2 separate regions of the Homo sapiens genome follow, and region 2 is linked to region 1. Evidence: fine-mapped expression QTL. A gene starts in region 1. The other region holds a variant in brackets. All regions are shown on one strand. Distances are between the middles of the regions.

Evidence for each region.
Region 2: its variant is fine-mapped to the expression of DPY19L3 in whole blood (INTERVAL, PIP above 0.99).

Annotation. Positions count from the first base shown.
Region 1 is chr19:32,398,395-32,413,896 of GRCh38, forward strand. DPY19L3 (dpy-19 like C-mannosyltransferase 3) reads left to right here and starts at 7,376. Exons shown (of 19, transcript NM_001172774.2): 1 at 7,376-7,515; 2 at 9,823-9,962; 3 at 12,845-12,978. The coding sequence starts at 9,860. It overlaps DPY19L3-DT (DPY19L3 divergent transcript), which reads right to left and starts at 7,145. Exons shown (of 3, transcript NR_046201.1): 1 at 6,597-7,145; 2 at 1,357-1,474. RefSeq lists silencers at 6,928-6,977, 7,008-7,757.
Region 2 is chr19:32,423,446-32,438,947 of GRCh38, forward strand. DPY19L3 (dpy-19 like C-mannosyltransferase 3) reads left to right here. Exons shown (of 19, transcript NM_001172774.2): 4 at 9,271-9,361; 5 at 13,001-13,122; 6 at 13,749-13,894. Among named protein-coding and RNA genes, the nearest start is that of DPY19L3, 25 kb to the left of the region's middle. The variant T/C (reference allele first, on the strand shown) is at 6,163.

The DNA.
Region 1 (15,502 bases):
ACATGGTGAAGCCCCATCTCTACTGGAAGTACAAAAATTAGTCAGGTGTGGTGGTACACGCCTGTAGTCCCAGCTACTCAGGAGGCTGAGGCATGAGAATCGCTAGAACCCAGGAGGTCAAGGCTGCAGAGAGCCAAGATCGCGCCACTGCACTCCAGTTTGGGAAACAGAGTGAAATCCTGTCTCAATAAATAAATAAATAAATAAATAAATAAATAAATAAATAAATAAAAGAAGTTTGGCGACCATTGCATTGACTTTTACCAAGATACTTGAAAAGTCAACTAAATTGGATGAAAGTACTGTTGGAAAAAAATATATGTAGTATACCAAACTGCCCCATACATGTTTCTGTAAGGGAATACTCAGCATTGTAAATATCTCATTTCTCCCAAACATTTCTAAACACTTTATATAATTCTAGTAAAAATTTCCATGGATTCTGTTTTAGAACTTAGTAAATGATTATAAAGTTTATCTGAGCAAATAAATATGCAGAAATTGCCAAAATATGTGGTTAAAAGAAGTGTAATGAAGGGTCAATTGCCCTCTCAATATGAAAACATTCTATAAAATAATTAAAAACATGTAGAACTGTTTCAAGACTAATTACTTTTTAAAATCATTTAAACATAAGTGTCATCTTATAATACAAAAATTAGCCAGGCGTGGTGGCTATAGTCCCACCTATAGTCCCAGCTACTTGGGAGGCGGAGGTGGGAGAACTGCTTGAGCTCAGGAAGTGGAAGTTGCAGTGAGCCGAGATCATGCCACTGCACTCCAGCCTGGGCCACAGGGCAAGACCCTGTCTCCAGAAAAAAAAAAAAAAAAAAAGAGTGAGCTTATAAATAAGCCATATACATATGGGAATTCAGTATGTGGTACAGGTAATTTAAATCAGTAGAGTAAGGATGATGGTGAAATAATCAACTATCTAATTTAAAAAAAAATTGTCAAGTCTCTCCCACACCATATTAAAAAGTTATAATATTTTTAAATACTAGCAGAAAGAATTAAAAAACATTTACAATCTTGAGATGGGGAAGGTTTTTCTAAGCATGATGGAAAAACCCAGAAGGTATAAAAGAAATTTGACAATATAAAAATGGAAAATCCCTGCATAGCAAAAGACATCATACCAGATACACAATAATGAGAAACTATCTGCAGCATATATGACAACAGATTAATAAATACCCATAATCGGCCAGGCGCAGTGGCTCACACCTGTAATCCCAGCACTTTGGGAGGCCGAGGTGGGCAGATTCCTTGAGCTCAGGGGTTCAAGACTAGCCTGGGCAACATGGCAAAACCCCATCTCTACAAAAAATTGTTTTAAATTAGCCAGGCACACACCTGTGGTCCCAGCTACTCAGGAGGTTGAGATGGGAGGATTTCGTGAGCTCAGAAGGTTGAATCTGCAGTCAGCTGAGATGGCGCCACTGCACTCCAGTCTGGGCAACAGAGCAAGACCCTGTCTCGAAAACAAAAACAAAAAAAACTCATAATCTATAAATAATCCCGTCACAGCAAGATTAAATAGATGGTGAAAGAACACAAAAAGACAAATTATACAAAAGAAATGCAAATAGCCAATAAACTCCTGATATATTGTCTTCACCTCATTAATAAAGAATGCACACTAATCATGTATTATTTGTCACCTAAGATTGGCAAAGATTTAAAAACTAATTGTTGGCAATGGCATGGAGAAATAAGTGTCATAATACCCACTGGTGGAAGAGAAAAACAATAGAATCTTTAACCTTTTTGGAATGTAGTTTACCAATGTTTATCACAATTTAGAATATGAGTTCTAGGGCTGGGCATGGTGGCTCACAACTGTAATCCCAGCACTTTGGGAGGCCGAGGCGGGTGGATCACTTGAGGTCAGGAGTTCAAGACCAGCCTAGCCAACATGGTGAAATCCCATCTCTACTAAAAAGACAAAAATTAGCCCGGCATGATGGCGGGTGCCTGTAATCCAAGCTTCTCAGGAGGCTGAGGCAGGAGAATCGCTTGAACCTGGGAGGCAGAGGTTGCAGTGAGACAAGATTGCGCCACTGCACTCTAGCTTGGGCGACAGAGTGAGACTCTGTCTCAAAAAAAAAAAAAAGAATATGAATTCCAACAACCCTGTTTCCAGAAATACATCCTAAAGAGTTACATAAATATAAGTATGTTCTTACAGCATTCCCTGAAATAGCATAAAACTAGAAACAACCTAGATGTCCAACTAGATGGGAATAAATAAATCGTAACACATACATACGGTGGATATTGTATTGGTTATCTATCATTGTACAAAATTACCCCCAAAACTTAGTGGCTTAAAAAAACAATGTACATTTATTATCCTCATAGTCTCTGTGTGTCAAATACTTGGGAGTGGCATAGATGGGCACTTCTGGCCCAAGATCTCTTATGCCGCCATCTGAAGGCTGACCTGTAGCTGGCCGATCTATTAGGTTGGTGCAAAAGTAATCTTGGTTTTTGCCATTACTTTTAATGTCCCACCAACCTAATACTTCCAAGATGGCTCACTCCCATGGCTGCCAAGGTGGTGCAGGCTGTTGCCTACGTGGCCTTCTCTACAGGCAGTTTGAGTGTCCTCACTACATGGTGGCTGGCATCCCCGCTAAGTGAGCAATCCAAGAGAGGCTAAGGCTGAAACTGGGATGTCTTTTATGACTTAGCCTCAGAAGTCCCACACTGTCACTTCCACGGTATTCTGTTGTTCACAAAGAAAAACCATGATTCTGTGGAACCGGATACTGTATGAGGATAAACATGAGGCAGCACAGATCGTGTAAGCTGAGGTCTAAAGGCTGAAGAGTACCTAGTCAATTAAAGAGGGTTTAAGACTTTTTATAAGCCACGTGACAAACCTCTGACAGAGGTTTATGTGAATAGAAAGTGAAGGAGAGGTTGAAGAGGGAAACAGAGCCTGATTCGTGGCAGTCCTTACAAGCTGTGTCATGGAGCTTAATTTTTATAATAAAGCCAAAACGCCTCCAAGGGATTTATATTTTAGTAAGATCACTATGGTTATTACATACAGGTAAATGGACTACGGTGGTGGCAACAGAGATGAGCAAAGTGAACAAGATCTGAGGTATTTACGAGATAAATGCCAACAGGACTCAATGGATGATTGGATGTGTGGATTACACAATAGAGAGGAATCAAGGATGGCTTCTAGGCTCTTGATTTGAGCAATAAGGTAAATGGAGCACACAGAAGGAACCGCAAGTGTGGGGATTAGAAAAAGGTTTAACATGTTGAGTTTGAGGTGTTTACACACATGGAAATGTCCAATAGGCAGTGGACATATGGCACCTGGAGACCAGGAGATACACCTGGACATAAAAACAGGAGTTATCAGAGTATCAGTGGAAATCAGATCCACGGGCCACAGAATCATTGATTTTTAAGAGGAAGAGGAGGCCAGGCATGGTGGCTCATGCCTGTAATCCCAACAATTTGGAAGGCTGAGGCAAGAGGATCGCTGCAGCCCAGGAGTTTGAGACCAGCCTGGGCAACAGAGAGACCCCCTGCCACCCCCAATCTTTACAAAAAAATTTTTAAAAAATTAGTCAGGCATGGTGGTGCATGCCTGTAACCTAGCTATTCTGGAAGATGAGATGGGAGGATTGCTTGAGCCTTTGAGAGCAAGGCTGCACTGAGCCATGATTCAGCCACTGCACTCTAGGCTGGATGACACAGTAAGTCCTCTTTCCAAAAAGGGAGAAGGGAGGAGAAGAAGAAAGAAGAGAGGAGGAGGAGGAAGAACAGGAGGAAGAGGAAGAAGAAGGAAGAGGAAGAAAGAAGAAAAGAAGAAAGAAGAGAAAGAGAAGGGAGGAGGGAGGAGGAGTAGCTGCATGAAACTTAAAAGGAATGCCTGAAAGGTAGACAGAGGAAACACGCACAGTCTGTTGTCACAGAAGGCAGGAATGATGGAGAGTGTTTATACTAAGTCAAACAATTGAAAAATGAACACTGGGCTGGGCGCAGTGGAGGACACCTGTAATCCCAGCACTTTGGGAGGCCAAGGCAGGTGGATGACTTGAGATCAGAAGTTTGAGACCAGCCTGGCCAACATGGTGAAGCTCTGTCTCTACTAAACATACAAAAATTAACCGGGCGTGGTGGCCAGCACGTGATGCCAGCTACTCAGGAGGCTGAGACAGGAGAATCGTTTCAATCCGGGAGACGGAGGTTGCAGTGAGCCGAAATCACCCCACTGCACACCAGCCTGGGTGACAAAGTTAGACTCTACCTCAAAAAGTTAAAATAAATAAAATTTTTAAAATGGACATCATGTATCAGACAGGAAAAAGCCAGTAAGACGGAAGAACTCACACCCTCGGGATCCCAAGACAAGATACTTCCATGGGATGGATGTAATGAACAGTGTTAAAAGATTTCTGGTGCAGTGCTTCTCAAAGTGTGATGTACACATAAATGACCTGGGGGTCATATTAAAATGCAGATTTTGGCTACACAGGTCTTGGGTAGGACCTGAGACCTGGCTTTTCTCAGAAGACCCCAGGTGATGCCCATGCTGCACAGCCCACAGACCACATGTTGAGTAACAAGGTTCTGCTGTGGTTCCCAAACTTTTCCGAGCACAGAATTATCTGGAAAACTTCTGTACTAGTCCATACAGCTATACATACTGCTATAAAGGATACTGCTACAAAGAATGCCCAAGACTGGGTAATTTATAAAGGAAAGAAGTTTAATTGACTCACAGTTCAGCATGGCTGGGGAAGCCTCAGAAAACTTACAAACATGGCAGAAGGCAAAGGGGGAAGCAAGGCACTTTCCTCACAAGGAGGCAGGAAGAAGTGCTGAGCGAAGAGGCAAGATCCCCTTATAAAACCATCACATCTTGTGAGAACTCACTATCATGAGAACAGCATGGGGGAAGCTGCCTCCATAATTCAATTACCTCCACCTGGTCTCTCCCTTGAAAGGTGGGGATTATGGGAATTACAATTCAAGATGAGATTTGGGTGTGGACATAAAGCCTAACCATATCAACTTCTTAAAGATTAGTGGTCCCCTAGCCCTACAGATTCTAAATTGAGTAGGCGTGGGGTAGGGCCTGATAACATGCATTTCTTAACAACCTCCCAAGTGATGGTGACAGTGACGCTGCAGATCCCCAGACCACACTTTTGAGATGCACAGCACAACTATTTGTGGCCCTGGCAGAGACAACCAGGGAGACTATTTAGGCTTCTAAACCTACTGCAAACCGGAAGTCTTGCTATATACCACCACTGCAGTCACAGTCCATTACAGGAGCCCATTCCTTTTATAGTACCTCCCTGGCTCCGGGCTCATATGGCCAGAAGTGTGAGCAAGGACCTACACTCATTATCCATCACCTCCATGGTTACTTTATCAGAACCAAAGACTCATTCTTAATTGGCTTATTCTCCCCAAGACTTACTCTCAGCAGTAGGTCCTACTTAGGAAAAGTCTCAAAGCTTCATCTTGCTTAGGAATGTCTTTTCATAGTATTAAAAAAAGCAGCTACTGCTGAATTCTACTTTCTTTTTAACTAAGCGATGATATTTCACAATGGTCACATTTCCCCCAGAGTGAAACAACTTGAGAGAAAAAAAAAAACCTATAAAATAAGAGGGAAATCCTATTTAAGGGGAACTCAATTCACCTATGTATTCATGAAACAGACACATGCACATAAAGGCATCTTAACGTGAAAAATAAACATACAGTCCTTGCCCTCAAGCCAGGCGACAGAAAAGCTACCAACAACCAGGCTGAAACAAGACAAATGCCATCTGAAAAAACAGCTGACATTTGTTTCTATCAAAGCCATCCAGCAGATACCTCAACATCTTTCCACAGAACGTGTGCTCTTTACTAACAACCGACACACAAAGGAGGACGATCTCCAACAGAGGTGACTAGGAAAGGCTTCCTGGATGGCGTAATTTAGTGTTGGAGTCAGACCAATGAGCCGCCTTTTCACGGGTGGAGGTCCCAGATGGCCATCCCTTTAACAAAAATCAATTAACATGTAAATTATGTACTGACAAATACAACGTTTGATGGGCCCGCTGCAGTGGCTAAAGCCTGTAATCCCAACATTTTGAGAAGCTGAGGCAGGAGGCCTGCTTGAACTCAGGAGTTTTAGACCAGACTGGTCAACACAACGAGACCCCATCACTATAAAAATTAAAATGAATCTCAGCTACTCAGGAGGCTGAGGAAGCAGGGTCACTTGGGCACAGGGGACTAAGGTTGCAGTGAGCTACGATCACACCACTGCACTCCAGCCTGGACGACAAAGCAAGACCCCCATCTCTACGAAAAATTTAAAAATTAGCTGGGCATAGTAGTGCGAGCCTGTGGTCCCAGCTACTCCGGAGGCTGAGGCGGGAGGATCGCTTGCGCCCAGGAGGCCGAGGTTGCAGTGAGCCGTGATAGCACCACTGCACTCCAGCCTGGGCGACAGACTGAGAGCCTCACCTGTAAAAAATAATTTTAAAAAAGGTTCCACCTAGTGTTTTCCGTGGTGTGACTAAGAAAAGTATCTAGAAATAAAGCACAGTCAGTACCTGCTCTCAAAAAACGGCTGCCAATCTAGTTTGGAGACAGAAAAATATACCCGACTGAGAACACAGAGGAGCCTGTTTTCGGAAGAGGGGCGTCTTTGGAGACGCAAAATCCTCTCCGCGGGACGCTGACGGGCAGTCGGTAAAGGACTTCCAAGCACTGGTCAGTGACAATCGGGCGCTGGGGCTTTGCCAAGGCCCGGAGGCGGCGCGCCAAACCGGGCAATGCGGGAAGCGGGGCAGGCCCGAGTGGCCCTACTGCTGCCGTCCCTACTGATCCCTGCGCATCCGCCACAGAGCAGGGAACGGCAGAAAGGAGGAAGGAGGGGGAGTTCCGTAAATCAGGCCCTCAGGGGCTCCCAGGCCCGCACCCCTCTCAAGCCCCGGGGACCACCGCGGAGCCGCTGCTCCGGGCCGTGCGGCTCGAGGCGAACCTGCCTCAGAGCCGCCGGGCCCTCCTATCCCGAGCCGTATCTCTAGCTCCGGCCTGAGGTGGCCGGCGACTGCGTGCGCAAACACAAGATCCGCACCCCACTCCCCGCCACTGCAGCTCCGCGGCCGCGCTCAGAGTCTCCGGAACAGACCGGACTCAATGCGGACCAGGCAAGCGGAAGTGTGCCGCTTCCTTCCGGCCAGCGCAGCACGAGACGAGGCGGGGAACCGCGGGAGGAGGCGGGGCCTAGTGTTGACGAACAGCTCCCGGGGCCTATGGGCGCGGGGGCAGCCGCCCGGCCTCTCCGGCGCGCCCCCTCCCCGGGGCTGTTGACGCCCCCCAGCCCCTCATTTCCACAAAGCTCCGCGGCGGTTCTGCCCTCCTTGTACCCGCGGCGCGCTGCGGCCCGTGGCGCGGCCCCGTTCCCGCCTAGCCCCGTCGGCCTCCTTCCCCTCCCGGAGCCGCGCGTGAGGACGGCTGAGGCCGCAGGTCTGTGGCGGCGCGCCGGGACGCGCGGGCGAGGGTCTACCGAGAGGGCGGGCGGGCGCCGGCGGAACCCTCGGCTACAGCCCCGAGCCCCTGGGGCCGCCCCTCCCCGCCGCGTGGCGCAGTCGGGGGGCGCGGCCGCGGCGTCGGGGCGTCGGGAGGGGCGGAGCGCGGGAGTGTCTGCCGGGACGCGGGCCGGGCTGGGCTCCGGAAGGACCAAGTTTGCGGAGCGGCTTCTGCTCGTCGGCCGTGCGGCGAGGCAGGGCCTGGGCTGCGACCCCGGCGGCCGCTCGCGGTCTTGGGAGAGCTGGGGCGCGTGCCTGAACTTCCCGGCTGCCCCTGTCCTTGGAGACCTACCTGATGGGGACGCCAGGTGTGCAGGGGCGTGGCGCGTAGGTAAGCGGACCCGGTGCCTGCCTCGTCCAGGGGATGCTCACTAGAGCGCTAGGCTTTTTTATTTTTATTTTTTAGAGACAGGGGTCTCGCTGTCTCGCCCAGGCTGGAGTGCAGTGGCGTTATCACGGCTCACTGCAACCTCGAACTCTTGGGCTCAAGCGATTCTCCCACCTCAGCCTCTGGAGTAGCTGGGACCACAGGCATGCACCACCGAGCCTGGCTATTTTATTGTATAGATAGGGTCTCGCTCTGTTCCCCAGGCTGGTCTCAAACTCATGGTCTGAAGTCATCCTCCTGCCTCAACCTCCCAAAGCGCTGGGATTACATGAGCCGCCTCGCCCGGCTAGCGCTAGTCGTCCTTATTAATAAAGAATCGCTTCTGGTCCCTTTTCAGTTGTTTACAATGGCATTCCTTTTGATCTGATGGAGGAACTTTTTTTCTTAGTTCATGGGACTGTTGCAGTGCCTGACACATAATTGGTACTTAAATATGTGTTGGTTTTCTGCCTTAACATATTAGAATATATGAATTGTTTAAAAAAGTCCTCTCACACTTAGGGAGGACTCTAGGATGAGGTCACATGGGGGATAAGCCCATCTGTGGCTGTAGGACTTTGTTAAACACTCCTCTTCTCCCTCTCTGTTCCAGATTCTCCATTTCCAGTGCTTGAAAGCACAGTACTTAAATCTGGCTTCCTGCTTTTTTTTTTTTTTTTGGTATGAATGAATACATGAATTGTATAATGTTAGTTGGTTTGTTCTGTAGAGCAAGTTACCCTTAGGAATTAATAAACTGTGGAAACAATCATGTCAGGCTACTAGTCACATTTAAGAAATAATTAGTAAGAGGCTGTTCATTATTCAGAGGAGTGAAGCAAGATGTTCTGGAGGACTGGAACCCGCTTACTCACTGCCACCACTCCCCCGCCTCCCACTTGCTGCTGCCAAACCAGGCTCCTGCTCCCCCCCACCCATTACTCCCACCGACGCTCCCTGGGATAGCAGCTGCCCTGATTGGCACACCCCCGCAGTCATCACCACTGAGGCGTATTCCTGAAGCTGCCAGTGTGAATTGTTTTATAGAACACTGGTGTTAAAATTCAGGTACCTGAGACAAAACAATATTTTAATTCTTCAAAATCCGGTTGTCAACACATTTACTATGGAGTATCTCCCACGTGGCCACTTCTGTGGGAGGTACTGAAGACCTACTACCGCCTATGGAAGTAGAAAATAATATACAACTGTGTAGTTACGTGACGCATTGCGTGGTAACTGCTATGGCTCAGGGAGGGAGAAGATCAGCCGGAACTGGAATGTCCCAAGATGTTCTGGAAGAAAAGCAGTGGCTCGTTTGTGTTGCTTACCTGTATTCCTGACTCCTGGCAGGGCCTGCTGTAGAGCACATGCTTCATGAATAAATATGATTGAGTTGAATAAATATTTGAATTGTGTTTTGAGTGTAGCTTTGAAGGCCAGCAACGATTTAGATGGCAAGATCGAGGGCAGGCTGGGCACAATGGCTCATTCATGTAATCCTAGCACTTTGGGAGTCCAAGGCGGGGAGGATCGCATGAGGCCAGGAGTTCAGTACCAGCCTGGGCAAGATAGGGAGACCCCATCTTTACAAAAAATAATTAGCCAGGTGTAGTAGCACATGCCTGTAGTCCAGATACTCGGGAGGCTGAGGTGGATCACCTGAGCCTGTGGAAGTAGAGGCTACAGTGAGCCGTGATGGTGCCGCTGCACTCCAGCCTGAGTGACAGTGAGACCCTGTCTTGGGGGGAAGAAAAAAAAAGGGAGGGCATGCTAATAGAGGGAAAATGGCATAAGTAAAGGCATTTCAGCATGGATGAGCACGGGGTGTGTTGGGGAGAAGGCACTGACGTTGATGGCCTGTTTATTGCTATCTAGGAGTGATTTGGAGAACAATGCATGTAAGTCTGACATCATGATGTCCATCCGGCAAAGAAGAGAAATAAGAGCCACAGAAGTTTCTGAAGACTTTCCAGCCCAAGAAGAAAATGTGAAGTTGGAAAATAAATTGCCATCTGGTAGGTGATTTAAACTAAAGCAGCAATTTGGGTTGCTTTTATTTCTGCATATTAAAATGTCACTCTCCAATAGGATAAAAATTTGGTGGGACCTAACAATTGAAACTTGTTGTAGTACCCTGATATTCTAATTGCAATTTGATTAGATTGATTTTACAGTTATGATTTGACAAAAGATGAAAGAGCTTTGATTAGAAGTGTTTGTCAGCTGTCTGTTCATTAACTTACGGTTCTTCCAATCTCATCCTTTGACTCTCTAGAGTAATGGTCCCCCCACCCACACCCCAGATTTTAGTCTCTCTCTAATTTTTCTGGTCGTGTATACTATTTACACCAGGCAACCTTACCTTGGGTGAGTTTCCATTAAGGTAGTGAAAGGTGGATCAACATTTTTTAAAAATTCTTTATAATTAGTCAAATTCCTGAAGTTTTCTTTTGCTTTTTTTTTTTTTTCTTTTATTGGTGGGAAAAGTAATCAGAACTTGGTCAGTTGTTTGTATAATGGTAAAGACTTGCTAAGTGATGCATCAGATAGCATTAATTACCAACTTCTTGCTTCCTGAGTAGCTTTTGTAACTAAAGCATGGTCAGGATTTTAAAAGTTAACATGAAAATCTTCATACCCATTAACCATTTTGGATATCTGACAGAATTTACATTATTTACAGCCATGTTAATTCTTACCAGCCAGGCTAGTAAAGCAATTCAGGGAAACAGTTTAACAAAAGTAATCTGTAATGGGAGGTCATGACACCTGGCTCAGCCATTAGCGAGTGATTAACACGTTTTGGATAATAGTACTTTCTGAACACCTTAAACAATGCAAAGAAAAAGAAATATACTCCCATCCTGAAACTAACACCAGTGGCACTGTCTTGCTGTCTTAATGTCATATTCTGCACATGTATACCCATAAGCATTCGTATACAGTTTTGCAAAATTGGGATCCACGTGCTGTTTTGTAGCTTGCTATTTTTCTCTTATTATGTTATGAACATGTCATAAGCCAGTTAACGTATTTTTGAAATATCATCTATGTAAAGTATTTTTATAGCTGCCACTGTAGAAGTGAAAGGTTTTCTTACCATTTGCTAATACAGACAGAACTGTGATCAATTTCCTTGTGGCCATATGTTTGTTTAAAACTTTATTTCCTTGGGGCATGTCTTAGTCCATTTCTGTTGCTATAAAGGAATACTTGAGGCTAGGTGATTTATAAAGAAAAGAGGTTTCTTTGCCTCAGGGTTCTGCAGACTGTATGAGAAGCATGGCACCAGCATCTGCCTCTAGTGAGACCTCAGGAAGCTTCCAGTCGTGGCAGAAGACTTAGGGGAGCCAGTGTGTAGAGATCACATGACCAGAGTAGAAGCAATTTCCAGGGAACACAGGATGTCAGGCTCTTTTTTAACCAACCAGCTCCCCTAGGACTAACAGAATGAAAACTCAGTACTGCTAGAATCTCACCAACCTGTTTATAAGGGCTCTGGTTCCATCACCACACCACCTCCCATTAGGCCCCACCTCCAACATTGGGAATCACATTTCATCATGAGATTTGGAGGGGCCGAATAGTCAAACCACAGCAGGGTACATGCCTAGATTGGGAATTACTGGCCAAATGGGATGCTCATTTTGGTGGCTTTTACTCACTGCTGCCATGTTGCATTCCAGAGAGGCACCAATTTATTCTTCTAGCAGCAATGTTTGAAGATGTCTATTTTTTATACCCTTACCAAAACAGTATTAGCATTTTGAAAGCTGTCAAATTGGCCAAGATTTAAGTATAACTCACAGTTTTGATTTGCATTTCTTTAACATTAATGAATTTAAACATCTTCAGTCTGTTATTATTATTGGCCACTTTTTTCTATTGTACATTGCCTGTTCATGTCCTTAATCTTTTTCCTACTGCAGTATTCATCTTGACAGGACAATAAATTGTCCTGAAATAAAATAAATTGTCCTGAAAGTATTCATCTTATGTTAAGGGTATTTAAGCTTTCTTATATGTGCTATCCATATTTTGCCTAGTTTATATGTCCTTTAACTTGAGTTATGTTGGATTATTTATTCTGTGGGTTTTTCCCCCCAGAGCATTCCTGCAAAACCTGTGGGTTTAAAAAAAAAGTTTTAGGTAATCGGCCAGGTGCAGTGGCTCATGCCCGTAATCCCAGCACTTTAGGATCCCAGCTTGGGTGGGTGAATCACTTGAGGTCAGGAGTTCAAGACCAGCCTGGCCAACATGGTGAAACCCTGTATCTACTAAAAATACAAAAATTAGCCAGGCATGGTGGCATGTGCCTGTAGTCCCAGCTACTCAGGAGGCTGAGGTGGGAGAATTGCTTGAACCTAGGAGGCAGAGGTTGCAGTGAACCGAGATTGCACTACTGCATTCCATCTTGGGCAACAGAACAAGATCCTGTCTCAAAAAACAATAATTATTTTTTAGGTAATCAAGTTTTTAAAATAGCTTTTAAAGAATAAGCCACCAATTGTACCTAGATTATCTAAAAGATCGATTACGTCCTAGACACGTAACACATTTAGTCATCCATTTAACAGACTTCATAGTTAAATTACGGTTGTTAAACTGTGCCGGACAGAGGCCCTCAGTATTAAACATGAATAAGATAATGTATTTGTCTTCAAGAAGCTCACGTTGTAGTTGGCAGAATGGACACATGGACAGTTAGATACGGGGTAACAGTTGTAATAGAATGAAAACAGGTCTGTGGAATCAGAAAGGACCCTCCGCTGGAGACAGGAAAAGCTTTCCCAGTGACAGGCAGCTAGACTTAGCTTACTTGATAATCTGAAGTAGAACTATTACATTCTGATTTTTTTACTGACTTAGTTATTTATCTGTTCCATTTTTCCAAAAGGTTGTACCAGTAGAAGATTATGGAAGATTTTGTCATTGACAATTGGTGGAACCATTGCCCTTTGCATTGGACTTCTTACATCTGTCTACCTTGCCACGTTACATGAAAATGATTTATGGTTTTCTAATATTAAGGTATGGAGTTTCTTTGACCATTGTATCATTCACTCAGTGGGATCTCCAGTAGTAAGCCATGTGGATGAATGACCAAGGCAACACAGTTTTGCCATAAAGAATCCAATCTCTAGAAAGGTTGGACTATAGAGTGAAATAACTTTTGTGTTTATTATTTTAAAATAACATATTAGAATCTTTTTTTAAATTTTTCTTTATTATTTATTTATTTTTGAGATGGAGTCTCACTCTGTCACCCAGGCTGGAGTGCGGTGGCGCAATCTTGGCTCACTACAACCTCTGCCTCGCAGGTTCAGGTGATTCTTCTGGCTTAGCCTCCCAAGTAGCTGGGACTATAGGTGCGTGCCACCACACCCAGCTAATTTTTGTATTTTTACTAGAGACGGGGTTTCAGCATATTGACCAGGCTGATCTCGAACTCCTGACCTTGTGATCTGCCTGTCTCAGCCTCCCAAAGTGCTGGGATTACAGGCGTGAGCCACTGCGTCCAGCCAGAATCTTTATTTTTCATTTTAATTTTTTGAGATAGGGTATTGCTCTGTCACCCAGGCTAGAATGCAGTGGTGCAAACATGGGTCACTGCAGCCTCAACCTCCTGGGCTCAAGTGAGTATCCTGCCTAAGCTTCCTGTGTCACTGGGACCCCAGGCATGCACCACCTCACCAAGCTAAATTTGATTTTTTTGTAGAGACAGGGTCTCACTTTGTTGCCCATGCTGGTCTCGAACTCCTGGGCTCAAGCGATCCTACTGCCCTGGTCTTCCAAAATATGAGAATGAGCCATAGCACCCAGCCCAGAATTTTTATAATCAAGTGAGTTTTTTCTTTTTCATTAACTTATTCCATTTATTTAGCAGTTATTCTAAATTAGTATTTTTCAAGTTATAGATTGTGAAATTAGTGCAGTAGGTCATGAGTAACATTTTTCTTAATGAAATCAAAAAGAAAGAATACTATCACATCTAGTAGGGTTGAGGATTGTTTTGTGAAACTTTTAATTTTATATATATATATATATGCACAAACTGGGTCACAGTATACAAGGTACTTCCTTTTCTTTTTTTTCTTGTTGGCTACAACAGGAAAAAAAAAAAACAGAAAAGGAAATAAAAAAGCCACTGCTTTAAATCATGGGGTCTAAATGTGGCTCCACAGAGGGTCCTCAGCATGTTCATGACTATCTAATACTCTGTGCAAGTGGTTTTGCAGGGCATAGGGCGATGGGGAAGCCATATGTTTCCAGGGAAAGGAACTGTAATTTTAATCAGATTTTCAGGAGGGTTAGCCGGGCGTCACGCCTGTAATCCCAGCACTTTGGGAGGTCGAGGCGGGCAGATCACTTGAAGTCAGGAGTTCAAGACCAGCCTGGCCAACATGGTGGAACCCTATCTCTACTAAAAATACAAAAATTAGCCGGGCATGGTGACACACACCTGTAATCTCAGCTACTCAGGAGGCTGAGGCACAAGAATCACTTGAACTCGGGAGGAAGAGGTTGCAGTGAGCTGAGATCCCACCACTGCACTCCAGCCTGGGCAACAGAGCAATACTCTTTATCAAAAAAAAAAAGAAAAAAGTTGAGGGGGTGGTCTGTGACTCTTTAAACACGTTTCCTTGTTTTCTTTCTCTCTCTCTTTTTCAACATTTCTAGAACTCCTCTTGGCATTGTTTTCAGAACTCGTATATAACTTACATGTGGAAATTTGCATCCAAATATACCTTACATTTTAATCTAATATGTCATGATCTTTAACCTAAACTGTGGTGTCTAATGACTAGTTGCTTGTAAAAATAAACAAACACCTTCAAAGCCAAAGATGTGTATCTATAAGAATGTTCGAAAGAAGTGACTGATGAAGGATCTGAAGACATTTTCCAAAGAAAGTTTTCCAAAACATTTTGAGCTTTGATTCTCTTACTGAAATGAGCCTCGAAAGGATATTACTTTGATGACAAATCTAATTTATAAGAATGACCTCTAGTGTGTTTATTTTTAAAACTTGCTGTGTTACTTTATGGGTACAGTATATATATCTTTATACAAATTATCATAGTACCAAAGAAGAATAATTCTTTTTTTTTTTAATTATTATTATACTTTAAGTTTTAGGGTACATGTGCACAATGTGCAGGTTAGTTACATATGTATACATGTGCCATGCTGGTGCGCTGCACCCACTAACTCGTCATCTAGCATTAGGTATATCTCCCTATGCTATCCCTCCCCCTCCCCCCACCCCACAACAGTCCCCAGAGTGTGATGTTCCCCTCAAAGAAGAATAATACTTATCTTTCAGTGACAGTAGGTAGTTCTTCTTGTCAGAAGAATTTTACTCGTTTATATATCTTTTTTTGGGAGGAGCGGGGGCGGGCAGGGTCTTTCTCTGTCCCCAGGCTGGAGTGCAATGGCACAATTACAGCTCGCTGCAGCCCCCAAACTCTGGGCTGAATTGAAGCATTACTCTCACCTTAGCCTCCCGAGTAGCTGGGACCACAGGTGCACGTCACTGTTCCCAGCTAATTAT
Region 2 (15,502 bases), 25 kb after region 1:
TGCCATGTCAGGCTGTTCGAGACATGCCAGGCTGGTCTCGAACTCCTGAGCTCAGGCAGTCCATCCACTTCTGCCTCCCAAAGTTAGGATTACAGGTGTGAGCCACCATGCCTGGCCGCCATTACTTTTAAATGGCAAAAACCACAATTACTTTTGCACCAGTCTAATACACAAGAATGCCAACATAAGTAATAATGTTATAATGCATAATAATAACATAACAGTGTAATACGTATAACACAAGATAAAAGAAGAAGGGGAAGAGAGGGTAAAAGATGGTGGAGGCTGACTGGGCACAGTGGCTCATGCCTGTCATCCCAGCATTTTGGGAGGCCAAGGCGGCAGGATCGCTTGAGCTCAGTAGTTCAAGACAAGCCTGGGCAACATGGTGAAACCCCATCTCTAAAAACAAAAACAATTTGCCAGGCATGGTGGCATGTGCCTATAGTCCCACCTACTCGGGAGACTGAGGTAGGAGGATCACTTGAGCTCAGGACACAGAAGTTATCATTAGCTAAGATTGTGCCATTGGCCTCCAGCCTGGGTGACAGAATGAGACCATCTCGAAAAAAAAAAGGTTGGGGAGGCCAGCTGGCACAGTGGCTCACAGCTGTCGTCTCAGCACTCTGGAGGGCAAAAGGTGGGAGGATTGCTTGAGCCCAGAAGTTCAAGACCAGCCTGGGCAACATAGTGAGATCCCATCTCTACAAAAAATTTTTAAAAAATTAGCTGGGTGTGGTAGTGTGCACCTGCAGCCCCAGTTACTTGGGAAGCTGAGGCAGGAGGGTCACCTGAGCTGGGGAGGTCAAGGCTGCAGTGAGCTGTGATCACACCACTGCACTCCGGTCTGGGCAACAGAGTGAGACCCTGTCTCTAAAAAAAAAAAAGAAATAAATAAAAAAAAATGGATGGGAGTATCCTGATTTCTTTCTCTTTTATAACTGGAAGTCAGAAAGTTTGATTTAAAACTGATAAGACACACAAGCCTGGGCAACATGGTGAAAACTTGTCTCTACTAAAAATACAAAAAAAAAAATTAGCCAGGCTTGGTGGCACACAGCTTACACCCAGCTGCTTGAGAGGGTGCAATGGGATGATCACCTGAGCTCAGGAAGCCAAGTCTTCAGTGAGCCAAGATCATGCCGTTGTGCTCCAGCCTGGGCAACAGAGCAAGAACCTGTCTCAAAAACAAAAAAAGGTCTCTGTAGATCTTCAAGTTGACCTACAGAGTCAACATGATCCCTCTCAGAATCCCAGGTGGACTTTTCACAGAAATTGACAAGCTAGTCCTAAAATGTATATGGAAACTCAAGGGACTCAGAATAGCTAAAACAGTTTTGAAAAAGAAGAACAAAGTTGTAAGACTCAAACTTTCTGACTTCAAAACTTACTATACAGCCACAGTAATCAAGACTCTGATGCTGGCATAAGGATAGACATATAAATCAATGGAATAAAATTGGGAATACAGACATAAATCCTTAGATGGTCAAGTGATTTTCAGCAGGGCACCAGGAAGGACAGTTACGTGGAGAAAGAATAGTCTTCAATAAATGGTCTATAAACAAATGGATATTCACATGCAAAAGAATGAAATTAGACCACTGCCTCACACCATACACAAAAATTAACTCAAGATGGATCATAGGCCTAAATGTCTAAAACTATAAAACATTTAGAAGAAAATATGCAAATGAATCTTTTATAACTGTGGAGTAGGCCAAAACTTCATAGAGACCACACTAAAAACACATGATTAAAAATAAATAAATAAATTGGTGTTCATCAAAATTAGACATTTTTGTACTCCAAAGTACACCATCAGACCAGGTGCTGTGGCTCATGCCTGTAATCTCAGCAGTTTGGAGGCCAAGGCAGGCAGATCACTTGAGGTCAGGAGTTCAAGACCAGCCGGGCCAAAATAGTAAAACCCTGTATCTATTAAAAATACAAAAATTAGCCAGGCGTGATGGCACACATCTGTAGTCCCAGCTACTAGGGAGGCTGAGACAGAAGGATCACTTGAACCCGGGAGGCAGAGGTTGCAGTGAGCTGAGATGGCGCCACTGTGCTCCATCGTGGGTAACAGAGCGAGACTCTGTCTCAAAAAAAAAAAAGAAAAAAATTAAGACTCAAAAGTCAAAATTATTCCTTGATCCATGGGCTGTAGAATAGATTTTGTGTTAGCAGGCATGAAAATAACACAGATAACCAGATGCATTATCAATGAGCAGTAGTATTTTGAAAAGAATTTTTTTTTTCTGTGTAGTAGATCTCAACAGTGGGCCTAAAATAGTAAATCGTGCTGTCAACACATGGGCTGTCATCCAGGTTTTGTTGTCCATCTTTAGTGCACAAGCAGAGTAGATTTCACATCATTCTTAATAAGGACCCTAGGATTTTCAGAATGGTAAGTGAACATTGGCTTCAACTTAAAGCCACCAGCTGTATTAGCCCCTAACGAGAGTCAGCCTATGCTCTGAAGCTTTGAAGTCAGGCATTGACTTCTCCTGAGCTGTAAAAGTCCGAGATGGCATCTTCTTCCAATAGAAGGCTGTTTCATCTACATTGAGTATCTGTTGTTTAATGTAGGCACCTTCATCAGGGATCTTAGCTGGATCTTCTGGATGACTTGCTGCAGCTTTTCCATCAGCACTTTCAGCTTCACCTTGCACTTGTATGTTAGGGAGATGGCTACTTCCCCTCAACCTCATGAACCAACCTCTGCTAGCTTCCAGCTTTTCTTCTGCAGCTTCCTCACCTCTCTAGCCTTCACAGAATTGAAGAGAGGGCCTTGCTCTGGATTAGGCGTTGGCTTAAGAGAATGTTTTAGATGATTTGATTTTCCATCAGAGCATTAGACTTTCCCCGTATCAGCAATGAGGCTGTTTTTCATTCTTATCATTGGTGCGTTCACTGGAGTAGCACTTTTAATTTCCTTCCGTAACTTTTCCTTTGTGTTAACAACTTGGCTCTTTGGCACAGGAGGCCTAGTTTTTGGTCTCTCTCAACTTTCGACATGCTTTCCTCACTAACTTATCATCTCTAGCTTTCCATTTAAAGTGAGAGATGTGCCACACTTCCTTTCGACGCTTAGAGGCTATTGTAAAGTTATTAATTCCGATATTATTGTGTCTCAGGGAGCAGAGAGGCCTGGGGAGAGGAAATGAGACAGAAGAATGACAGAGCTGTCAGAACACACACATTTCAGTTCACCGTCTTACATGGGTGTGGTTTATTGTGCCCCAAAACAGTTACAGTAGTATTAATAACATCAAAGATCACTGATCCCAGATCCCGTGACAGGTATAATAATAAAGAAAAATGTGAAATATTGGAAGAATTACTAAAATGTGACAGAGACAAAAAGTGAGCAATAGCTGTTGCAGAAATGGTGTTGATAGTTGTTTGATGCATAGTTGCCACTAAGTTTCAATTTGTAAAAATGCATTATCTGCAAAGGGCGGGAAAGTGAGGCACAGTGAGATGAGGCGTGCCTGAAGTCGTTTCCCTTTGTTTACAATGTGTTCTTTCTTTGGTGTTTCGTTGTTTGTTTGTTTGTTTTTGAGGCAGGATCTTGCTCTGTCTCCCAGTCTGGAGTGCAGAGGTGCGATCTCGGCTCACTGTAGCCTCGACTTCCTGAGCTCAGGTGATTCTCCCACTGCAACCCCTCAAGTAGCTGGAACTACAGGGGCATACCACCATGCCCAGCTAATTTTTTATATTTTTAGTACAGCCTGGGTCTTGCCATGTTGCCTAGGCTGGTCTTAAAGTCCTGGGCTTAAGTAATCCACCTACCTCGGCCTTCTAAAGTGCTGGGGTTATAAGCGTGAGCCACCGCACCCCCGCATTCTTCTTTCTTGTTGGAACATAAACATCTTTCGGTCAAATACTAAATTCTTGCACCTTTTTGTTTCCCCAGCAAATAAATATGCAATGATAAGGAAGGCAGTTCTCCTTTGGCTATAAGCACCAACATCACTCTTTCTTTTTAGTCTTTTTTCCTTGTGCTAACATTTTCCACTGTTATTCTTATTTACTTGATATTGCCGAATTTGCATGTCTTCCCATTGAATACTCCTGCAAAGCAAGGAGACTTTAGAATAGATAGGGGTAATCCACACAATAGTAGTACGGTAGTGCTAAGACTGCTGATTGCCTGAGTGTGGGCCCAGTGGAAGAACTGTCACTTCAGTAGCAGACTGCCCTCCTCACAAGCCCTGCTTGGCACTTCTCACATGCCACGGCTTTAATCAACTCTGGGGCAAGAATCATTCCCCTCTAACAGATGGACATGAATTTAACCAGACAATAAACCATGTATGTGCCATAAATATGTTTGCTGAGGGCATGATTCCCAGTACAGAACTTTAAGAACAGCTGTCTTATGGGCTACTATTTCTTGGTGAGATGATTTGTTAACCTAATTCTGAAACAGATTACATTTATAAAGTTAATTTTTCGGTGGCTTCCCCACTACTAGCAGTCTAATTATTTTGGGGGACAATTTTTGTAAACAAATCTTTTTTTTTTTTTTTTTTTTTGAGACAGAGTTTCACTCCATCACCCAGGCTGGAGTGCAGTGCCGGGATCTCAGCTGACTGCAACTTCCACCTCCCGGATTCAAGCAATTCTCATGCCTCAGCCTCCCAAGTAGCTGGAATTACAGACATGCACCACAATGCCCAGCTAATTTTTGTATTTTTAGTAAAGACGGGGTTTCGCCATGTTGGCCAGGCTCGTCTCAAACTCCTGACCTCAGGTGATCTGCCCACCTCGGCTTCCCAAAGTGTTGGGGTTACAGGTGTGAGCCACCGCGCCTGGCCTGTAAACAGAACTTTTTTACGTGAGTTGTTCTTGTTTTTTTAAACATGAGTTGTTTTGTTTTTTTTAAAAAAAAGCAAGAGGAGAAAGACTTCAGGACCATTGCGATAGATGTAGGGACCACTGCAATGAGGTCTTGCAGTGGTGGAGAGAGATTGTACTCAACTTCTAGTACATCATGGGTGAGTAGGAATAGGCAGCCAAGGAGCGGATTGGGGTCAGTGGCTGGGAAATGAGTAAGAGGAACCACTGGGATGCGGGGGATCCTGGCTCAACCAGGCTTAGAGGGTTCTTGCTAAAGGCAGGCCAGAGTGACCAGACATTATGTGGGGGATCTATTTACGTGAGATTTTTAAAAAGCTAATTTGATGTTTCCTTTCCAAATTTGGTGTCATTTGTCTCAAAGGACTCTAGCCTTTTGGGCATTGCCAGCAACTTGTCTGAGTGCCTGTGGGGAATGTGATCATTTATTGTGAGCAGTCATTTTTTGTGTGTGTGTACATCTATTAAATTGCTATATACACTGTTACTTCAATGGTTTTAGCTGTACAGTTTTTTTTTTGTTTTTTTTCTTGTTGTTGTTGTTTGTTTGTTTTGAGACGGAGTCTCACTCTGTCTCCCAGGCTGGAGTGCAGTGGTGCGATCTCAGCTCACTGCAACCTCTGCCCTCCGAGTTCAAGTGATTCTCCTGCCTCAGCCTCCTGAGTAGCTGGGATTACAGGCGCCTGCCACCGCGCTTGGCTAATTTTTTGTATTTTTAGTAGAGACGGGGTTTCACCATCTTGGCCAGGCTGGTCGTGAACTCCTGACCTCAGGATCCACCCGCCTCAGCCTCCCAAAGTGCTGGGATTACAGGCGTGAGCCACCACACCCGGCCAGCTGTACAGTTCTTTATAAATACAAGTCTTTTGTCTTTCCACTTCTTTCTGTCATTATCTTCGAAGATGTTTTCGTTCTGTCAACATTGCATTCCCCATGGAACCTGTGCAAATTGAATATGAAGTATTTGTTCGTTTTGCATTCTTTAGAGGATAACTACTATTGGTGTATATTTTCACGGGTGTGATCTACCAAGCGAAGTATAAATTGCTGTAAAACTGGAAAAGTGTTTGAATGAGTGAAGCAGATGTTCTCTTAGCATGAAGCAGATGTAAAACTTGCAAGTGTCTGTCTAATAAAGTATAGCATTTGGTTCTGTACAGCTGGTGCTAGATTACCAATTAATCATGTTTGAATGCATTTTTACTAATTAGGTCCCCCTCTGTTCTTTGTGCATTCTGGCTATAATAAAGGGAGAGATGGGACACAAAAGCTTTCTACCTTTAGTACTTTGAGCAG[T/C]GTTTTTTCTTATTCCCTGGTCTTTTATTCTTAGAACCATATAATTCACTCTTTCATTCTTTATTGGCTCTCCAGTTTGATTTGGGATGTAGGTGTGACAGGATTTTCACACTCCTCAAGTGCCTTTGAACACTTTAAGGAAGCTAGAGAAAAGAAAAATAATGTAATTAATGTTGTTGTTGTTGTTCTTAATTTGCATGGACAAAAGCTAGTATTTGCTCAGTTAACATCAATTCATAGCCTCTGTGGTTATTTGAATGAGTAGGAGTTTGGACATTCTAGAAACGAGTGATACCAGGTTGGTTTTAAGTTCTCAAAAGCAATAGAGCACGTTTTCTCAAAGATAAAAAATGAGTGGATTAAAGTAACTACCCAGAAGAGTTGCCTTTACTGCTATGAAAGATACAACACAAATCACTAGCAATGAAAGTTTAAAAAGCTGTATCATTATGTAGTAGCCTTTTTATAACGCAAGTGTGTTATTGAAATTAAATTTTAGGCCCAGGCACTGTGGCTTCTGTCTGTAATCCCAGCACTTTGGGAGGCCACGGCAGGAGGATCACTTAAGCTCAGGAGTTCAAGACCAGCCTGGGCAACATGGCAAAACCCTACCTCTACAAAAAATACAGAAATTAGGTGGACATAGTGGCATGTGCCTGTAATCCCAGCTACTTGGAAGCCGAGAGGATCACTTGACCCTGACACGCAAAGGCTACGATGAGCCGTGATCATGCCACCGTACTCAGCCTGGGTGACAGAGTGAGACCCTGTCTCCAAAAAAAAATAAATAAATTTCAGAACCTGATGGGCCTTTTTTTAAATGCTTGATTTCCCCAGGATAAATTGGTTTTCTGTGAAAGGAAGTTCAATATATAAGATTTGCTACCCTACCTCCCATTTTTCTAAAAGGAATTAACAAACAATGATAAAAAGATTTAGAGGGTAGCAGAAATATATTAAATAAATAATTTCTAAGTCTGAAGATAATAGCATGAATGGTTCTTTCTTATTTATTTATTTATTTATTTTTTGAGGCAGGGTCTCGCTCTATCATCCAGGCTGGAGTGGCTTGATCATGGCTCACAGCAGCCTCAGCCTCCCAGTAGGCTGAGTCTCAATCGATCCCCCTTCCTCAACCTCCCCAGTTGCTGGGAGTTCAGGTGCATGCCACTATGCCTGGCTACTTTTTTTTTTTTTTTTTGTAGAGACAGGGTTTTGCCATGTTGCCCAGGCTGGTCTTGAACTCCTGAGCTCAAGCAATCCACCCACTTCAGCCTCCCAAAGTGCATGGCTATAGGCATGAGCCACCGCACCCAGCCTGAGTGGTTCTTTTAATGAGATGTTTATTACCATTTGAAAATTAGTTGGAGTTAGGGGGAAGCAAAATGAGCTAAAAGAAGTTCATCAGCTAGAAAATGAGATGTTCAGTATTTATCACTTTCCCCCATTGGGTTTGTGGAATGTGAATCTGCTATAATATGAAAAAGCATGGCCGGGTGCAGTGGCTCACGCCTGTAATCCCAGCACTTTGGGAGGCCGAGGCAGATGGATCACCTGAGGTCGGGAGTTCAAGACCAGCCTTACCAACATGGAGAAACCCCATCTCTACTAAAAATACCAAATTAGCCGGGCATGGTGCACATGCCTGTAATCCCAGCTACTAGGGAGGCTGAGGCAGGACAATCGCTTGAACCTGGAAGTTGGAGGTTGCAGTGAGCCGAGATCGCACCATTGCACTCCAGCCTGGGCAACGAGTGAAACTCCGTCTCAAAAAAAAAAAACAGATCGAATTATATTTTAGACAGTGTGTTACAGATTTTAGGACATGGTTTGTTTTGTTTTGTTTTTAACACTGGTGTAAAAGAATCTCTAATAACATAGATTATAACTTTTTATTTATTTATACTTTTACAGGTACAGGTTAAGTATCCCTCATCTGAAATACTTGGGGCCAGAAGTGTCTTGGATTTCAGATTTTGGATTATTTGCATATATATAATGAGAAATCTTGGGGATAGGATTCAGGTGTAAAGATGAAATTCATTTATGTTTTATGTATACCTTATGCACATAGCCTGAAGGTGATTTTATACAATATAGTTCATAAAACAAAGTTTGTAGACACTGAACCATCAGAAAACAAAGGTGTCACTATCTCAACCATCCCAGTGGACAGTCTATGGTTATTTGGCATCACCATTGTTCCTGACTCTGAATTTACATGGTGCCTTTATAAGTAATCATTTTGTTATACTTATTCGTACATAAGTACTTAACAATAAAAAATATGACATACCATCAATACGGTGAAAAAAATAACACTTTCAGGGTAACTTGTGTCATCGTGTTGGCTCTCAGAAGGTATCCAATTTTAAAGTATTTCATTTGGATTTCAGCTTTTCAGGTTAGGGCTGCTCAACCTATAAATAAAGTGTATCATCTAACAGTATTAATTGGATTATTCCAGAAAGTCTTCCGTGTCATTGTTGCCCATTGCTTCTGTTTTATAGTAATAATTTAAATTTAATAAAAGTATCTTGTAACTAAATTGGCTAATAGCTATTTAAGTTTTCAGTTCTTCTAGGGTTGAATACTTATCTAAAAGCAGTTTAAATATTTCATGTATCCATTTACCTGCATAAACCTCTTCCCACCAGGGTTACGCTTGTCAGAGTAAAATTCATGTGTCTGCCTTATTTGACTACAAATACCTTTTATTCTTAGAATAAAATGAAAATGATTGATCTTATGTAATATTGGTAGCTTTTAGGTAGGTGTCTAATGCAATTATATTTCTTTTCATTTTTTTTTGTGCCATCCCTGTTTTGTGTCTCACTGCTATTACATAGGAATGGTGATGTATTCTTTAAAATTTTTTTTAAGATTAAACATTCACTAAAGTAGAGAATAGTAGGACAGACTCCCATGTATCCCTCACTCAGCTTTAACAGTGATCAGCCTTCCATTCTTGTTTGCCAAGATTTTTTGAGACTATATTTTCAGAGTTTTTTCTCTTTCAAGTTGCAGTTATGTATCCTTTCTACAGTAACAATATGTATTTAAACAAAACTAGGTCACATAAACCCATAGGATCTAACTCTGTTTTAGGAAGTGGAGCGAGAAATCTCATTCAGAACAGAGTGTGGCCTGTATTACTCCTACTACAAGCAGATGCTGCAGGCTCCAACCCTCGTGCAAGGTAATTACAACTGATAGTTTCATTTGGGGTCTCCTGCATTTTTTTCAATATTTTAGTGAGAAGTACTGTGCACTAAAAACCACTTAAATGCTCTCTAGAACATGTGTATTTTTCCGTGCTAATGTCTAATCATTTCATGAAAATGTTTTTTGCTCTGGAAGAAGTTATGTAATACTTTATATAACCCTCCTCTCTTTGCCTTCCAGCTCTGTTCCATCCCAAAAGTAATATCTTTGCAATTTCATGGTTTTGTTGCTGAATTTTCTCATGATCATTTTGGAGGAGGTCTTTGCAGGTGAAAGGAGTATTGTCTGAGAACAGGAGGCATTTTGGTAACACAAATGAAAATTACAGTTGTGCCTCTTGTCCCCAGTGCTCCATTCATTCCTTTATTTCACAGTTGCCATTTTCCTGCATTTTTACTTCCCCTAAGTGGGTTAGACCCCACACTCTGCCTTTACTCCATCTAATGAAAGCCCCAACATGGATCTCTTCTACCTAGTACATACTTGATCGGCTTAGCATGAGTGCATGTGACAGAAAACTGCTCTTTTATAGGCTTTATTTGGAGTCAGCTTTGACATTTTTGGTGGCAGTTATTCATAAATTATTTTTTTGCTGTTGTTTTTGAGACAGGGTCTCACTCTGTCGTCCAGGCTGGAGTGCAGTGATATGATCATAGCTCGCTGTAGTCTCAATCTCCCAGCCTCAAGCAGTCCTCCTGCCTCAGCCTCTCAAGTAGCTGGGACTATGGGTGTGCACTACCACGTTCATTTTTTGTTTTGTTTTGTTTCTCTGTGGAGACGAAGTCTCACTGTGTTGCCCAGGCTGGTCTCAAACTCCTGAGCTCAAGTGATCCTCCTGCCTCAGCCTCCCAGTGTGTTGGAATTATAGGCATGAGCCACCGCGCCCAGCCCATAAGTGATGTTTTTTACTTGTAGTTTTATCACCTAGGAGACATGACATTTTGGTTATCTTTGGTTTTGTGCCATAAAAATTAATGAGTTGGTCCCTGTGATGATAGCCAGATTCATCCATAATAAGGGTAATTAATCACCAGCCCTTCGCTTAGTGGTTTTAGCAGCCATTGATGATTATCGTCTGTAGTTCTTATTTCAGAGGGGATGCAAATTAGTGACCTTCTAATTCTGTCATTCCTCCTTATTTATTAGTTGGAACTATGTTATATAGAAAACCTTCTCGTTAATTGTTTGGCTACCTTGCAGTACAGTTTATACAAGAAAAGCAGGCTTAGTATTCATTTTTTCCCCATACAATCAAACCTTGTTATTCACAGATTCCATAGTTGCAAAATCTTTTACTTCCTAAAATGTACTTATAACCCTAAAATCAGCATTAATAGTACTTTCACAGTCATTCATGGACACGTCCAGAGCAACAGAATACTTTAGCCTCTGGCATGCGTGTTTCCCACAGAGACTGAATGAGGCGACACTCTGCCTCCTTGTCTCGGCTCTCACACTGCAGTGTCCTTTTCAGAAAGTCTGTTTTATGCCATGTCCTTTGCATTGTTTTGCTGTTTGTTGAAGTTTAAAATGATCCTCTGAGCCTGGGCGCAGTGGCTCACTCCTGTAGTCCCAGCACTTTGGGAGGCCGAGGCGGATGGATCACCTGAGGTCGGGAGTTCGAGACCAGCTTGACCAACATGGAGAAACCCCATCTCTACTAAAAATACAAAAAAATTAGCCGGGCGTAGTGGCGCATGCCTGTAATTCCAGCTACTCCGGAGGCTGAGGCAGGAGAATCGCTTAAACCTGGGAGGTGGAGGTTGCGGTGAGCCGAGATCACGCTACTGCACTCCAGCCTGGGCGACAGAGCGAGACTCCGTCTCAAAATAGAAAAGTAAAAAAATTAACTAATTAATTAAAACACGACAGACTCTTAAATGGCAGAAATTTATTTTCTCACAATTCAGGAGGCTGGAAGTCTGAGGTTAGGGAGCCACATGGTCAGGTTCTAGGGAGGGCTCTCTTCCTGGCTTGCAGACAGCCACCTTCTTGCTGTGTCCTTACATGGCAGAAAGAGAAGAGCGAGTTCTCTGGTGTCTCTTCTTGTAAGGCCACTAATCCCATCATGAGGGCCCATAACTGTCCAACTCTTAGGTTGGAGAGTTATCCATCCATAACACTCCTGTGTTAGACTTTAGGCTTGCCATAATGTAATACCACAGACTGCGTGGCTTAAACAACAGAGATTTTTCTCTCCCTTTTGGAGGCTAGAAGTCCAAGATCCACCTGCTGTTAGGATTGGTTTCTATTGAGGCCTCTCTTCCTGGCTTTGTAGATGCCCTTTTGTTGCTGTGTCCTCACATAGCCTTTCCCTCTGTGCAAATGCAGAGAGAGCACAAGGGCAAGCTCTTGTCTGTTCCTCTTATAAGAACACCAGTCCTATCAGATTAAGACCCCACCCATGTGACCTCACTTACCCTTTATTACCTCCTGTAGGCCCTGTCTCCAAGAACAGTCATATTAGGGCTTCGGGCTTCAGCATACAAATTTGTGGGGGACACATTTCAGTCCACAGCACCTCCTATTGAGGAACATCTGGGTTGTTTTGGATCAATCTTTTGCTGGTACAAATGGTGCTGCATGAGTGACCTTGTGCCAATGTCATTTTGTATTTTTGCCAGCCTTTGTGTGGGATTGATTCCTAGACATGGGCTTTCTAGGTCAAAGGGTAAATTCATATGTGATTTTGCTGGATACTGCAAAATTCCTCTCCATAGAGATGACACCATTTTGTATTCCCAACTGTAGTATATAGGAGTCTACTTTTTTATAATCTCACAGAGTGTATTGTAAAACTTTTTTTGCCAAGGCAGTAGGTGAGAACTAGCATCCCTCAGGGTAGTTTTAATTTGCACTGTTTTAATAGGAGCAAGGTTGAGGATCTTCTCCTGTGTGGAAGGACTGTGTGCATGTTTTCTTCTGTGAACTATCCATTCATGCCTTGGATTAATTAGCCTGGTTACAGTGACAGAGGACCTCTGTGGCTGTGGATCTCTGTAACAGCAGGTCAAGTTCTCCTTCATCCTTCTCATGACATGTCTGCTGTGAGGGAGCTGCAGCTCTGGTCTGCCCCCAACATCTGCGCATTCAAGCCCTATTTGGAATGTGCCAGTGTCATGGCAGAGGGCAAGAGCAAGAGCTGGTAGAAACATGCCTTGTCTTCTAAAGCCTCTGCTCAGCTATGGCTTACATCCACTTACATGCCACTGGTTAGAGCACATGGCCAAAGCCGTTCTGGGGAGTGGAGAAGGAAGGCCATGTATACTCTCCCAAAGGAGATACTGCAGGTTGCATGGCAGGAGGGCAGGGTGGAGAAATGTGAAATCCTCTTGCCCACATTTCTAGAGAAGGACCTTGTGGTGGTGGTGGTGGTGGTTTCATTCCAGTTACAAAAGTTTTAATTTACCTATGTTTGTGTAAATGTTTAAATGATGTCCATCGAATATGTGGTAAGCTCTTTGAGGGCAGGAGTATGTTTTTTTTGCTTACTCTTATATCCCCAATGCCTACCACAGTCTCTAGCACTTACTAAACAATCTGTGCATAGTTTTGAATGAATGAATAATTATGAGTGTAATTATTTTCTTCCTGACTTTTCACATATCTATAGGTTTTCATGGCCTAATATATGATAATAAAACTGAATCTATGAAGACAATTAACCTCCTTCAGCGAATGAATATTTACCAAGAGGTTTTTCTCAGTATTTTATATAGAGTTCTACCCATACAGGTATGTTTTGTGATATTGAATTATTAATATCAGATGAAAGTCAAAGTCTGCCATTTTGAACTGAAAGTTATCACATCGTTCTTTCTGATCTTCAACTGGTTTAGTAGAAAATCAGCAATACTATATTTTTTTTCCATGTATATTATGAACTTTATAAGATACTGCTTTTTATTTACATAGGATATAAGGTTTTTGTACACAGATGCTTCCTGGCTTATGTATGTATGCGGTCTAGAAGCTAATAAATATTTTCATTTGCTCTCTGTAATCAGGAGTGATTACACATTCACTCCTGATGGATCTTTGAGAGAAAAAATTTGTAAAGTCAGCAAATCACAATGACCACTTCTCATGTGAATGACGTATCATCAGACAAAGTTAGGTATAAAACTTTCTAGAGTAAAGAGTGAAGCCAGACCTGTCACGGACTTCCTTCCCCTGTCTCTTCTCGGTGGTGGGAAGAAAGGCTACCCGAACGCTTCTCTAATAGATGAAAGGGGTGTGGGCTTGCTGCTTGGAATTAGAGGCAAGCTCCTGCATATTGTATTCCTACTGTCATGTTTTAAATGGCACTGAGGAGGGTTAGGGCTCACCTGACAAACATGTTTTATTGTTCCCTTTTACAGAAATATTTAGAGCCAGTTTATTTTTATATTTACACCTTATTTGGGCTCCAGGCGATCTATGTCACAGCTCTCTACATAACCAGCTGGCTACTCAGTGGTACATGGCTGTCAGGACTGTTGGCAGCTTTCTGGTATGTCACAAATAGGTGAGTTGGAGTCAGTATGCTTCTTTTTTTTCCAAAATGTAAGTAAAAATGAAGTCACTTCATTTCCAGCTCAGAGAAATTTCTTCTGCCACATTTGTTTGGTTGGGAGCAGTTTCTCTTTGGTTTGCCTGGTGGTTTACTCAATTTTTCTTATTTAGTTAGGGAGAAAGTGCTACTTACATGTAATTCCAGCTGAGGAACAGAGAGCATTGAATTGCATATCAAGAAAATCATTCATAATAATCCCAAACCTATTATCTGTTTGCTGGGTGATCAAGATTTCTCCAGCCGCATATCTCATCTCTTAAAGGGTTTTTTTAAATTGGCAAATAATAATTATACATATTCATGGGCTACATAGTGATATTTCAATACATATAGAATGTATAGTGATCAGATCAAGGTAATTAACGTATCAGTCATTAAAAAGTTTTTTGGGTTTTTTTCTTGCTGTTTTTTAAAGCCAATGAAGACTTTTAAAATTTTTATTTATTTAGGGGTTGTTTTTGTTTTTTGTAGAGACAGGATCTCCCTATGTTGCCCAGGCTGGTCTTGAACTCCTGGCTTCAAGCAGTCCTCCCACCTTGGCCTCCCAAAGTATCAAGATTACAGGCATGAGCTACTGTGCCTTGCCTAAAAAGTTTTAATTATATCTTCACTATCAACCTTAATAGGGTTGTGTATGGCTCTCAGTTAGTAGAGCTTAAAGATAAAATGCAAGGGCGTTTTTGCCTTATTTAATATCTACTATTATAAGCAGTAGAGCCTTATGAAATCACATTTTAAAAAAATGTATTCAAGATCATTAAATTATTGCCTGTCCTATAATGGCAATACCAGTATTCAATAGGAGTCTTAAAACTTGAACATGAGTTCTAATACAGGTTTTATTTTGTAAGTCTAAGCAAATTACGTGTTATGACAGTCCTGTTGGGGGTTTACTGTATGCCAAGCACTTTACAATATGTGTTATATGGGTTCTTAGAAGAACCCTATAGAGTAGATATTATTATTATCCCCATTTTAGAAATGATAAAATTGAGGCTTTAAAGGTTACATTTTGTATATAGATACAGATATTACAGACATCTATATATATTTCTTTTATATAGAGATATATGTAGATATAGATACATTGTTTGATACATTGTTTCATATATATCTCTATCTTTTATAGAGAGATATATGTAGATATAGGTACCTTGTTTGAGATGTAGATACACACACGTATATTATGTGTTACATAAGTGTATCATTTATTGAATGCCTAGTATGTGTGGGGATGGTGTACAAAGATGAAAAATTTTACCCATACTTGCCCTGTTGGGATTCACATTCTAGAGAGGCAGGAAGTTTTTTTAAAAAATACTGTCAATGACATATTTAAGACTCAAGTATAAAAAACACCAAAGAAATACAGAGAGAGGGAAAATGTGTATTGCCTCTTGACACTAATAAAGTGAGGGAGAAATGAAAGTAAGGGTTTGGCATGATACATTTGTGAGTTTAGGAGTAAGGCTAACCTGGGCTTGAACCCTAGGTGCTAAGGGCATACCCATGGACAGAGCACTTAAATGTTCTCTATGCCAATTTTATGTTACAGGGATG